Linked DNA regions of Homo sapiens: region 1 is linked to region 2. The links come from fine-mapping of genetic effects on gene expression. A gene starts in region 2. The other region holds a variant in brackets. All regions are shown on one strand. Distances are between the middles of the regions. Region 1 overlaps THOC5 (THO complex subunit 5). Region 2 holds the start of NIPSNAP1 (nipsnap homolog 1).

Evidence for each region. PIP is the estimated chance that this variant, and not a neighbour inherited with it, causes the effect.
Region 1: its variant is the best candidate, but not a certain one, in a credible set for the expression of NIPSNAP1 in whole blood (INTERVAL, PIP 0.51).

What each region holds. Positions count from the first base shown.
Region 1 is chr22:29,542,341-29,547,713 of GRCh38, reverse strand. It overlaps THOC5 (THO complex subunit 5), which reads left to right. Exons shown (of 20, transcript NM_003678.5): 3 at 3,111-3,254; 4 at 4,172-4,285; 5 at 4,758-4,855. Among named protein-coding and RNA genes, the nearest start is that of THOC5, 8.7 kb to the left of the region's middle. The variant C/T (reference allele first, on the strand shown) is at 2,710.
Region 2 is chr22:29,578,040-29,583,380 of GRCh38, reverse strand. It overlaps NIPSNAP1 (nipsnap homolog 1), which reads left to right and starts at 2,268. Exons shown (of 10, transcript NM_003634.4): 1 at 2,268-2,396. The coding sequence starts at 2,299. RefSeq lists a silencer at 2,462-2,511 and an enhancer at 2,495-3,107.

The sequences.
Region 1 (5,373 bases), 36 kb after region 2:
TGGAACCTCCTAGAGACTTGTTGAATGGCTTTGACAAAAATGCTGATAATGGGCCGGACATGGTGGCTCACGCCTGTAATCCCAGCACTTTGGGAGTCTGAGGCAGGTGGATCACGAGGTCAGGAGTTAAAGACCAGCCTGGCTAAGATGGTGAAACCCTGTCTCTACTAAACATACGAACAAATTAGCCAGGCGTGGTGGCGGTAGCCTGTAATCCCAGCTACTCGGGAGGCTGAGGCAGAGAATTGCTTGAACCCAGGAGGCAGAGGTTGCAGTGAGCCAAGATCATGCCACTGCACTCCAGCCTGGGTGACAGAGTGAGACTCCATCTCAAAGAAAAAAAAAAAAGTTGATAATGATATGAACAATAAGGTCCAGCCTGAGGTGGTCTCAGATGGAGATGAGGAACTTATTGGAAACTGCAGCAAAGGTGACTCTTGTGTTTTAGCAAAGAGACTGAAAACATTTGCCCCTGCCTTAGAGATTTGTGGAACTTTGAACTTGAGAGAGAGGATTTAGGGTATCTGGTGGAGGAAATTTCTAAGTAGCAAACCATTCAAAAGGTGACAGGGCCATGTGCAGTGGCTCACGCCTATAATCCTAGCACTTTGGGAGGCCGAGGCAGGTGAACCACTTGAGGTCAGGAGTTTGAGACCAGCCTGGCCAACATGGCAAAACCCTATCTCTACTAAAAATACAATAAAAATTAGCCAGACATGGTGGTGGGCCCCTGTAATCCCAGCTACTTGGGAGGCTGAGGCAGGAGAATCGCTTGAACCCGGGAGGCAGAAGTTGCAGTGAGCTGAGATTGCGCCATTGCACTCCAGCCTGAGCAACAAGAGCAAGACCTTGTCTCAAAAAAAAAAAAAAGAAGTGACTTGGGTACTGTTAAAAGCATTCCATTTTAAAAGGAAAACAGAGCATAAAAGTTTGGAAAATTTGTAGCCTGATGACACAGTAGAAAAGAAAAACCCGGCTGGGCACGGTGGCTCACGCTTGTAATCCCAGCACTTTGGGAGGCCGAGCTGGGTGGATCACTTGAGGTCAGAAGTTCGAGACCAGCCTGGGCAACATGGTGAAACCCCATCTCTACTAAAAATACAGAAATTAGCCGGGCCTGGTGGCAGGTGCCTGTAATCCCAGCTACCCACTGTAATCTCCAAGCCTGAGGCAGGAGAATTGCCTGAACCTGGGAGGCAGAGGTTGCAGTGAACTGAGATCATGCCACTGCACTCCAGCCTGGGCGACAAGACCGAGACTCTGTCTCAAAAAATAAAAATAAAAAATAAAAAAAGGAAAGAAAAACCCATTTTTTGCGGAGAAATTCAAGTTGGTTGCAGAAATTTGCATAAGTAGCAAGGAGCCTAATGTTAATCCCCGTGGGGGATTAACACCATGGGGAAAGCGTCTCCAGGCCATGTCAGAGACCTCACGGCAGCCCCTTCCCTCACAGGCCCAGAGGCCCAGGAGGAAAAAGTGGTTTTCTGGGCCAGGCCCAGGGTCCCTGTGCTATATGCAGCCTAGGGACTTGGTGCCCTGTGTCCCAGCCAGTCCAGGCATGGCTGAAAGGGGCCAATCTAGAGCTTGGCCTGTGGCTCAGAGGGTGGAAGCCCCAAGCTTTGGCAGCTTCCAAGTGGTGTTAAGCCTGTGGGTGCACAGAAGTCAAGAATTGAGGTTTGGGAACCTCCGCCTGGATTTCAGAAGATGTACGGAAACACCTGGATGCCCAGGCAAAAGTTTGCTGCTGGCGCGCTCATGGAGAACCCCTGCTAGGGCAGTGTGGAAGGGAAATGTGGGGTCAGAGCCCCCACACAGTCCCTACTGAGGCACTGCCTAGTAGAGCTGTGAGAAGAGGGCCACCGTCCCTTCAGACCCTAGAATGGTAGATCCACGAACGGCTTGCACCATGCACCTGAAAAAGCTGCAGACACTCAATGCCAGCCCATGAAAGCAGCCAGGAGGGAGGGAGACTGTACCCTGCAAAGCCACAGGGGTGGAGCTGCCCAAGACCATGGGAAGCCACCTTTTGCATCAGCTTGACCTGGATGTGAGACCTGGAGTCAAAGGAGATAATTTTGGAGCTTTAAAATTTCACTGCCCTACTGGATTTTGGTCTTGCATGGGCCCTGTAACGCCTTTGTTTTGGCCAATTTCTCCCATTTGGAATGGCTATATTTACCCCCACTGTATCTACGAAGTAACTAGCTTGCTTTTGATTTTACAGGCTCATAGGCGGAAGGGGCTTGCCTTGTCTCAGATGAGATTTTGGACTATGGACTTTTGGGTTAATGCTGAAATGAGTTAAGACTTTGGGCGACTGTTGGGAAGGCATGATTGGTTTTGAAATGTGAGGACATGAGATTCGGAGGGGCCAGGGGCGGAATGATATGGTTTGGGATTTAAATCTCAACTTGAATTGTATTTCCCAGAATTGCCACATGTTGTGGGAGGGACCCAGAGGGAGGTAATTGCATCATGGGGGCCAGTCTTTCCCGTGCTATTCTCATGATAGTGAATAAGTCTCACGACATCTGATGGGTTTATAAGGGGTTTCTGCTTTTGCTTCCTCCTCATTTTTCTCTTGCCGCCGCCACATAAGAAGTGCCTTTCACCTCTCGCCATGATTCTGAGGCCTCCCCAGCTATGTGGGACTGTAAGTCCAATTAAACCTCTTTTTGTTCCCAGTTTCAGGTGTGTCTTTATTGGCAG[C/T]GTGAAAATGGACTAATGCAGATGGGAAGTTGCACTTAACAGCACGGACAGTATGATCCCGTTTTGTTTACAAATAAAATGTTTATTTATCCACAATCTTCACTCAGTTTCGGACTGAGAGGCGAAATTATAGGCAATTTTTCCATTTTCTTTTTGATACTCCTCTGTATATTCTGAATCTTTGATACCAGGCATGCATTACTCTGCAATCAGAAAGCAAAAGAGGTTTCTATTTTGAAGAGAAGAAAAGCATTTAATTTAAGGACCAGATCTTTTAGAGACCTGACTGAGGCTTCATTGTTACTGTTTTTATCTAAAAGGAGATGTCAGCCAAGTGTCCCTGATCCCAGCAGGGAGACTTTTACCCCATGCACACAGAGCCTTTATCCTTACCTCTACAGGAAGGTAAATACTACAGTGAGGAGGCCGAGGTGGATCTGCGGGACCCTGGCAGAGACTATGAGTTATACAAGTACACCTGCCAGGAGCTACAGAGGCTGATGGCTGAGATCCAAGACCTGAAGAGCAGGGGTGGCAAGGATGTGGTAAGGAGTGGGACCAGGTGGCCGTGAACCTGGTGGGTTTACATAGATGAGGCTGTTTTTGCACCTACCAGGGCCCTTCCTGATCTTGATCTTCTGTCCTAGCCATGATCAGGTGATTGGAGCCTGAGGGCTCCCAAAACCTGTGAATTTATTGGAACTTCTTATCACCATTCAGTCACCAATTACAGGAATGAAAGTACAGGATAATTAATTTTTTCCCTACTAATTTGATCATTCATCCAATTAATATTTATTAAGTGCCAGGCATTTTGCTAGGTGTTGAGAAATGATGGTACTTATACATTTGCTTGATACAAAGATGGATGTGTACAAGTAAATTGTAGATACCAAAAATGAAATTATCATTAATAGTAAATGAATAAATGAGGTTTTAGGGGCAGAGAAATTAAACAATGTGACTAAAAACTCGATAGATAAGTTTTTTAAAATCCATTTTTTCCCCCAGGAATCTCACGTATTTGTGCTTATGCTGACAAGTTTTGTTAGAATTATTGCATTCAATCTATTCTAGCCAAGCTTTATGGCTATAATTCTGTTATTTTCCATTTAAGTTATCCTGTAATGTTATTTATAGAGGTCAAATTTTATGACAAGATGTTACTATTGCTGGGATCTCTGTGTAGGATCTGTAGAGATAGATTGTGCCTTTGCTGCCCTTATTCCATCTTCAATTCCTGTTACTCTAGTCCAAGCAGAAATTACTTTTTTTTGCCCGAGATTCTTAATCATTTTCCTTATACAATCATCCTCTTATTTTCTTCATGACCCTTCTCATGGTTCTGAGCTCCCTCCGGTGCCGTTTTTGGCCCCAGATGAGGATGGGTCAGTGGTGAAGGACTGAAGGAAGCTGAGCTAGCCCTGTCGTCAGTGGGCTTTACTGTTTTCTTTGCCCACAGGCAATAGAAATAGAAGAACGGAGGATCCAGAGCTGTGTGCATTTCATGACTCTAAAGAAGCTTAACCGATTAGCCCACATCAGGTTGAAGAAAGGAAGAGATCAGACCCACGAGGTAGTAGTTAAAAGGTTTAATTTTAACCTTCCTCCTTCCTCCTCCCCATCCCCTTCTTTTTTTTTTTTTTTTTTTTTTTTTGAGACAGAGTCTCGTTCTGTCCCCCAGGCTAGAGTGCAGTGGCACGATCTCAGCTCACCACATCCTCTGCCTCCCAGCTTCAAGCGATTCTCCTGCCTCAGCCTCCTAAGTAGCTGGGATTACAGGCACCTCCCACCACCATGCCTGGCTAATTTTTGTATTTTTTAGTAGAGATGGGGTTTCACCTTGTTGGCCAGGCTTGTCTTGAACTCCTGAGCTCAGGTGATCCACTCGCCTCGGCCTCCCAAAGTGCTGGGATTACAGGCGTGAGCCACTGCACCCAGCCCCATCCCCTTCTTTATTCCCTTTACACCTTCTCTTAGTTTGCTGACCCTCTCCTCTGCTCCATCCTGACTTGCCCTGCTCACTTCTGATCGTATTTTCCTTTCAGGCTAAGCAGAAAGTAGATGCCTATCATCTGCAGCTCCAGAACCTGTTGTATGAGGTGATGCACCTACAGAAGGAGATCACCAAATGTTTGGAGTTTAAGTGAGTTTGGGAGGACAGGGCTTTGGCACATGTGGTCTTTCGGTAACTGCTTTTTCCCATGTAGCTCACTGTAAGTCTGTTTCTTTTTTTTTTTTGAGACGGAGTCTTGCCCTGTCACCCAGGCTGGAGTGCAGTGGCGCAATCTCAGCTCACTGCAACCTCCACCTCCCGGGTTCAAGCAATTCTCCTGCCTCAGCCTTCTGAGTAGCTGGGATTGCAGGCGCCCACCTCCACATCCAGCTAATTTTTGTATTTTTAGTAGAGACGGGGTTTTGCCATGTTGGCCAGGCTGTTCTCGAACTCCTGACCTCAGGTGGTCCTCCCGCCTCGGCCTCCCAAAGTGCTGGGATTACAGGCGTGAGCCACCGCTCCCAGCCTAAGTCTCTCTTTAAAAAGAAATCTGATGAGCTTAGAAAACTGTAGGATCTGGGAGAAGGGCAAATTGCAAGGGTGAATGTGGGAGAATTGCAAGCCGTGATTTCAGGCTGCATAAAGAACCTCAGAAGTCTCTCTGACCT
Region 2 (5,341 bases):
CTGAGTAGCTGGGACTACAGGTGTGTGCTACCATGCTCAGCTAATTTTTTGAATTTTCATAGATCCTCCTGCCTTGGCCTCCCAAAGTGCTGGGATTACAGGCATGAGCCACCACACGTGGTCCTAATCTTAAAATTATTATTATTTTTTTATAGAGACTGGGTCTTGCTCTGTTGCCCAGGCTGGAGCGCAGTGGTGCAATCATGGCCTGGCCTCCACTCCCCCCATGCCAAGCATAACAGGAGGCAACCACTAGTCAGTGGGTGGACATTCTTTTGGGGAGCTGTCCCTGCCCCTTTGGAAGTGGATAGAGCCCCTGCCCCCTGTGGGGTCTGCAGGCTCTCCACCCCTGCCAATGTCTGTGATCTGGGGGATTGTGGGCTGAGAAGGGATTAGTTTAGAGGGCGGGCAAAAGAGCTGGGCAGGGCAGAAAGAGGCCCCAGGATTTTCAGGCAGAGAAGTCAAAGGGGGATGAAAAGGGGAAAGGAGATGGTGGAGATAAAGTGTCTGCAGCTGACAGCCTTGCCCCTGTCTTCACTTGTAAGGAAGTTTGTTTCTTTGATGGTGATAAACCTGGCATGTGAATGCCTTTCCCCAGAGAATGCACCACAGAGGAGCACGTAACGTTGTATACAATTTCAGGGGGCTTACTGATGCAACCCCTTTGCAGAAATTTTAACAGTGAGAAAATTATGACAGTGAAAGTGATCTGACCTAACCGACTCCATTTTGCTTCTAACCCCCAAACTGTCCATATTCATTCCTGGGCATAGGCCAAACTTACAGTCTTTTTGTTTGTTTTTTGAGACGGAGTTTCGCTCTTGTTGCCCAGGCTGGAGTGCAGTGGCGCGATCTCGGCTCACTGCAACCTCTGCCTCCAGGGTTCAAGAGATTCTCCTGCCTCAGCCTCCCGAGTAACTGGGATTACAGGTGCCCGCCACCATGCCTGGCTAATTTTTTTGTATTTTTAGTAGAGACGGGGTTTCACCCTGTTGGCCAGGCTGGTCTTGAACTCTTGACCTAAACTTCTGATCCACCTTTGCCTCCCAAAATGCTGGGATTACAGGCATGAGCCACCATGCCCGGCAGCAAATTTATAGTTCAACTTTGAAACAAAGATAACAGCCCTCTCCCAAAATAAACCCCTTTCTTGCCTGGGGACCAGACTGCTTTTGTAAGACTAACAAATTAGCCACGAGATTAGAAATTACGGTTTAGGAGTCATGCAGGTAGTGGCCACAGATTCTAAACCTCCCCAGTTGCTCCTAGGGATAACATCACTACTGTAAAACCTAAGATTGGTGCTCAAGATATTTTTCCGATCCTGCACTCAATGGATCCGCTGGCGATACACAGATTAAGAAACCGGATCATCCGGTTTTGTGGCCCCCACCCAGAGATCCACTCAGCACAAGAGGACGGCTTCCACTCCCTATGATTGCATCTCCGACCTGACCAATCAGCACTCTCCACTCTCTGGCCCCTACCCACCAAATTATCCTTAATAAAACCCAGTCTCCGAATTTTCAGGGAGACTGATTTGAGTAATAATAAAACTCCGGTCTCCCATTCAGCCGGCTCTGCATGAATTAAACTCTTATTGCAATTCCTCTGTCTTGATAAATCCGCTGTCTGGGAAACGGGCAAAATGAACCCATGGGGTGGTTACACTGACCCTCTGCTGCACATCCCGGACAGCCTTGTTAAGAACCCTTGGTAGGCTGGGCATGGTGGCTCACGCCTGTAATCCCAGCACTTTGGGAGCACGAGGCAGGCAGATCACGAGGTCAGGAGATCGAGACCATCCTGGCTAACACGGTGAAACCCCGTTTCTACTAAAAATACAAAAAATTAGCTGGGCGTGGTGGCAGACGCCTGTAGTTCCAGCTACTCGGGAGGCTGAGGCAGGAGAATGGCGTGAACCCAGGAGGCGGAGCTTGCAGTGGGCCGAGATCGCGCCACTGCGCTCCAGCCTGGGCGACAGAGCGAGACTCCGTCTCAAAAAAAAAAAAAAAAAAAAAAAGAACCCTTGGTATTATTGTTCCACGCTCCCATTTTACCGAGGTGGATCCTGAGGCCCAGAGTGGGCAAAGGGCTTGCCAAGGTCGCAGAGCGCGCAGAGGATTAGAACCCTGACTTCCGTCCAGCACCTGCGGAGTTGGAGACGCCCACAGGAAACGCCCACCTGACCGGGTGAGTGAGGGGGCGGGCGAGCCGGAGGGGTGGAGTTTATTCGCGCCCCGCCTCCGCCACCAGGGCTTGGGGGCGGGGCCTTCCTGCAACCTTTGCGGCTCCAACATGGCTCCGCGGCTGTGCAGCATCTCTGTGACGGCGCGGCGGCTGCTGGGGGGCCCGGGGCCTCGCGCTGGGGACGTTGCGTCTGCAGCTGCGGCGCGGTGAGAGCCCGGCCAGGCAGGGATAGACGCGCGCGGGGTGGGGTGCAGGCGCGGGGGCCAGGGACTGGGTCGTGGGGGAGGGGCTGAGACTCCTCGCTTGGAATCTGGGGGTTAGAGGCGGGGCAGGATCAAGGCCTAGGGAGGGGTCTGGGCAAAGAATGGGGGAGGTGAGAAAGGGATGGGTAGGGTCTTTGTCCTGGTTGGGACCGGGCTGTGATGGGGACCTGATGAAAGATGGTGAGAAGGGCAGGTACTGGGCCCTGGAGAGTGGGAGAGGGCAGAAGACAGGAGGAGTGGCCCATTCCCAGGCGTAGCTTGTGATTTAACACCCACTGGGGGCTTCTGGTAGTCAGCTCCTCCGTCGGGAAGTTCTGTGGGAAAGAGATGATGGCAGGGGAGCAGTGGGGGATCCCCAGGGGCCATGGCTGCACAGACCCTTTGTTCCTCCACCTCGAACTGTACAGGTGGGGAAACGGACCTGAGAGGGAATGGGAGTTGTCCAAGGTCACCCTCCCTGCTGTGCCGTGGCAGCACCAGGTCTGGGACCCAGGCCTGCCAATGCGCCATGCACTTTGCACCCAACTGGTGGCCTCCTGGGAGTGGGAGTCTGGCTGGGCCATGTGCTCTCAGCCTGGGCTTTTGTTTGGGCCCTGCTCTGGGCTGAGCTAGGGCTTGGCCTCCCTGACTGGCCCTGGGCAGCCCCTCACTCCTTGGTCCCCACAGCCCTGTACTTCCCCCATCTCTGCATATATGACCCTGCACAGTTATGACTTGGTGCTTGTCTGTCTCTCTCACTAGACCATGATCTCATTTTTCTCTGTTTCCCCAGCCTCCCACCCTCAGAGGGCTCAGGACTGTGTATGGTCAAGGAATATTTACCAAAGAAGTGAGGCCACCTGTTCCCCCTCCCCCAACCTGTGAAAAGGAAGCAACCATCCCTCCTGCCCTGCAGCCCAGGAATGAAGCTGCAAAGTTCTGATAGTGCCTGCCATGAGATGTTACAGCACAGAGCAGTGGGGCTTTTGGACAGCTGGGAAAGAGGAGTGGCATAAGCGCCCCACCTAGACTGCCCAATAATTAGGGATAAAGCTGACACCGTGGGAAAAGCCTAGAGTTTGCCTGGCACTAACAGATCTAACTCAGACTTTGTAGGTGGGGTGACCTCAGGACTCTTTAAGCCTCGGGTTCCTCATCTGTAAAATGGGAGTAATCAGGATGTATCTCATAGGGTTGTTGAGGATTAAAGATGCTGTGGTTGGTCGGGTATGGTGGCTCATGCCTGTAATCCCAGCACTTTGGGAGGCCGAGGCAGGCAGATCACTTGAGGTCAGCAGTTCAAGACCAGCTTGGCAACACGGCGAGATCCTGTCTCTATAAAAAGTACAAAAATGGCCGGGCGCGGTGGCTCACGCCTGTAATCCCAGCACTTTGGGAGGCCGAGGCGGTGGATCACGAGGTCAGGAGATCGAGACCATCCTGGCTAACACGGTGAAACCCCATCTCTACTAAAAATACAAAAAATTAGCTGGGCGCGGTGGCAGGCGCCTGTAGTCCCAGCTACTCAGGAGGCTGAGGCAGGAGAATGGCGTGAACCCAGGAGGCGGAGCTTGCAGTGAGCCGAGATCCTGCCACTGCACTCCAGCCTGGGCGACAAGAGTGAGACTCTGTCTCAAAAAAAAAAAAAAAAAAAAAAAAGTACAAAAATTTCACCATGTTGGTGAAAACGTGTCTCTACTAAAAATACAATTAGCTGGGTGTGATGGCTCACCCCTGTAATCCCAGCTACTAGGAAGCTGAGGCAGGAGAATCAATTGAACCCGGGAGACAGAGGTTGCAGTGAGCCGAGATCACGCTACTGCACTCCAACCCGGGTGACAGAGCGAGACTCCGTCTACAAAAAAAAAAGATTCCGTGGTTGTGAAGTGTCTAGCACTTGACGAACATGCAGTAAGTGTTGCTCCTTAACCCCTAGCCTATGTTTCAAGCAATTTCTGCATGTGACCCACATAATGTTGAGGCTCAAAGGGCTCTGGGAAGATCATCTTTTATGAGCCCTTTGTTTTCCAGATAAAAATATCAAGATTGGGGAAGGGACAGAATGGATTGGTGGTAAAACCATTTGTGTGGCAAACACCCAGAGGCTGTAAAAGGAGCATGGGTCTCAGAGTCAGCCTGCTGCCCCTCACTCAGTGACCCTGGATGAGTTGCTGAACCTCCGTCAGCCTCAGTTTCCTTTTCTGTAAAGTGGGGATGTTGGTGTTTTCGGCAGGATTGCTATGAAGCCACTTGAATTAATGTTTATCAAGTCCCTCAAGGACTGTCTTGCAGTTACTTATACCTTAATTCCACATTGGATACCTGAGAACACTCTGTCCTGCTGCCCCTCAGGCTGCCCCATATCTCTCCAGAGTCACTAGTAGGGCCAGCAGCAGCCCTTCTGGCCTGTGAGGTTTGGGGGCAATGAGGCTGCTGGGGTGGGGATGGAGTGTGGGCTTTGAAATCAGATGGACCTGGGCCAGGCACCATTGCTCACGCCTGTAATCCCAACACTTCGGTAGGCCAAGGTGGGAGGATTGCTTGAACCCAGGAGTTTGAGACCAGCCTGGGCAACATGGCGAGATCCTGTCTCTATAAAAAATACAAAAATTTGGCCAGGCACAGTGGGTCATGCCTGTAATCCCAGCACTTTAGGAGGCTGAGGCGGGTGGATCACCTGAGGCCAGGAGTTCAAGACCAGCTTGGCCAACATGGTGAAACCCCATCTCTACTAAAAACACAAAAATTAGCCAGGCCAGGCCTGGTGACTCCCACCTGTAATCCTAGCACTTTGGGAGGCCCAGGCAGGCGGATCATGAGGTCAGGTATTCAAGACCAGCCTGGCCAACATGGTGAAACCCCGTCTTTATTAAAAATACAAAAATTAGCTGGGCATGGTGTGTGCGCCT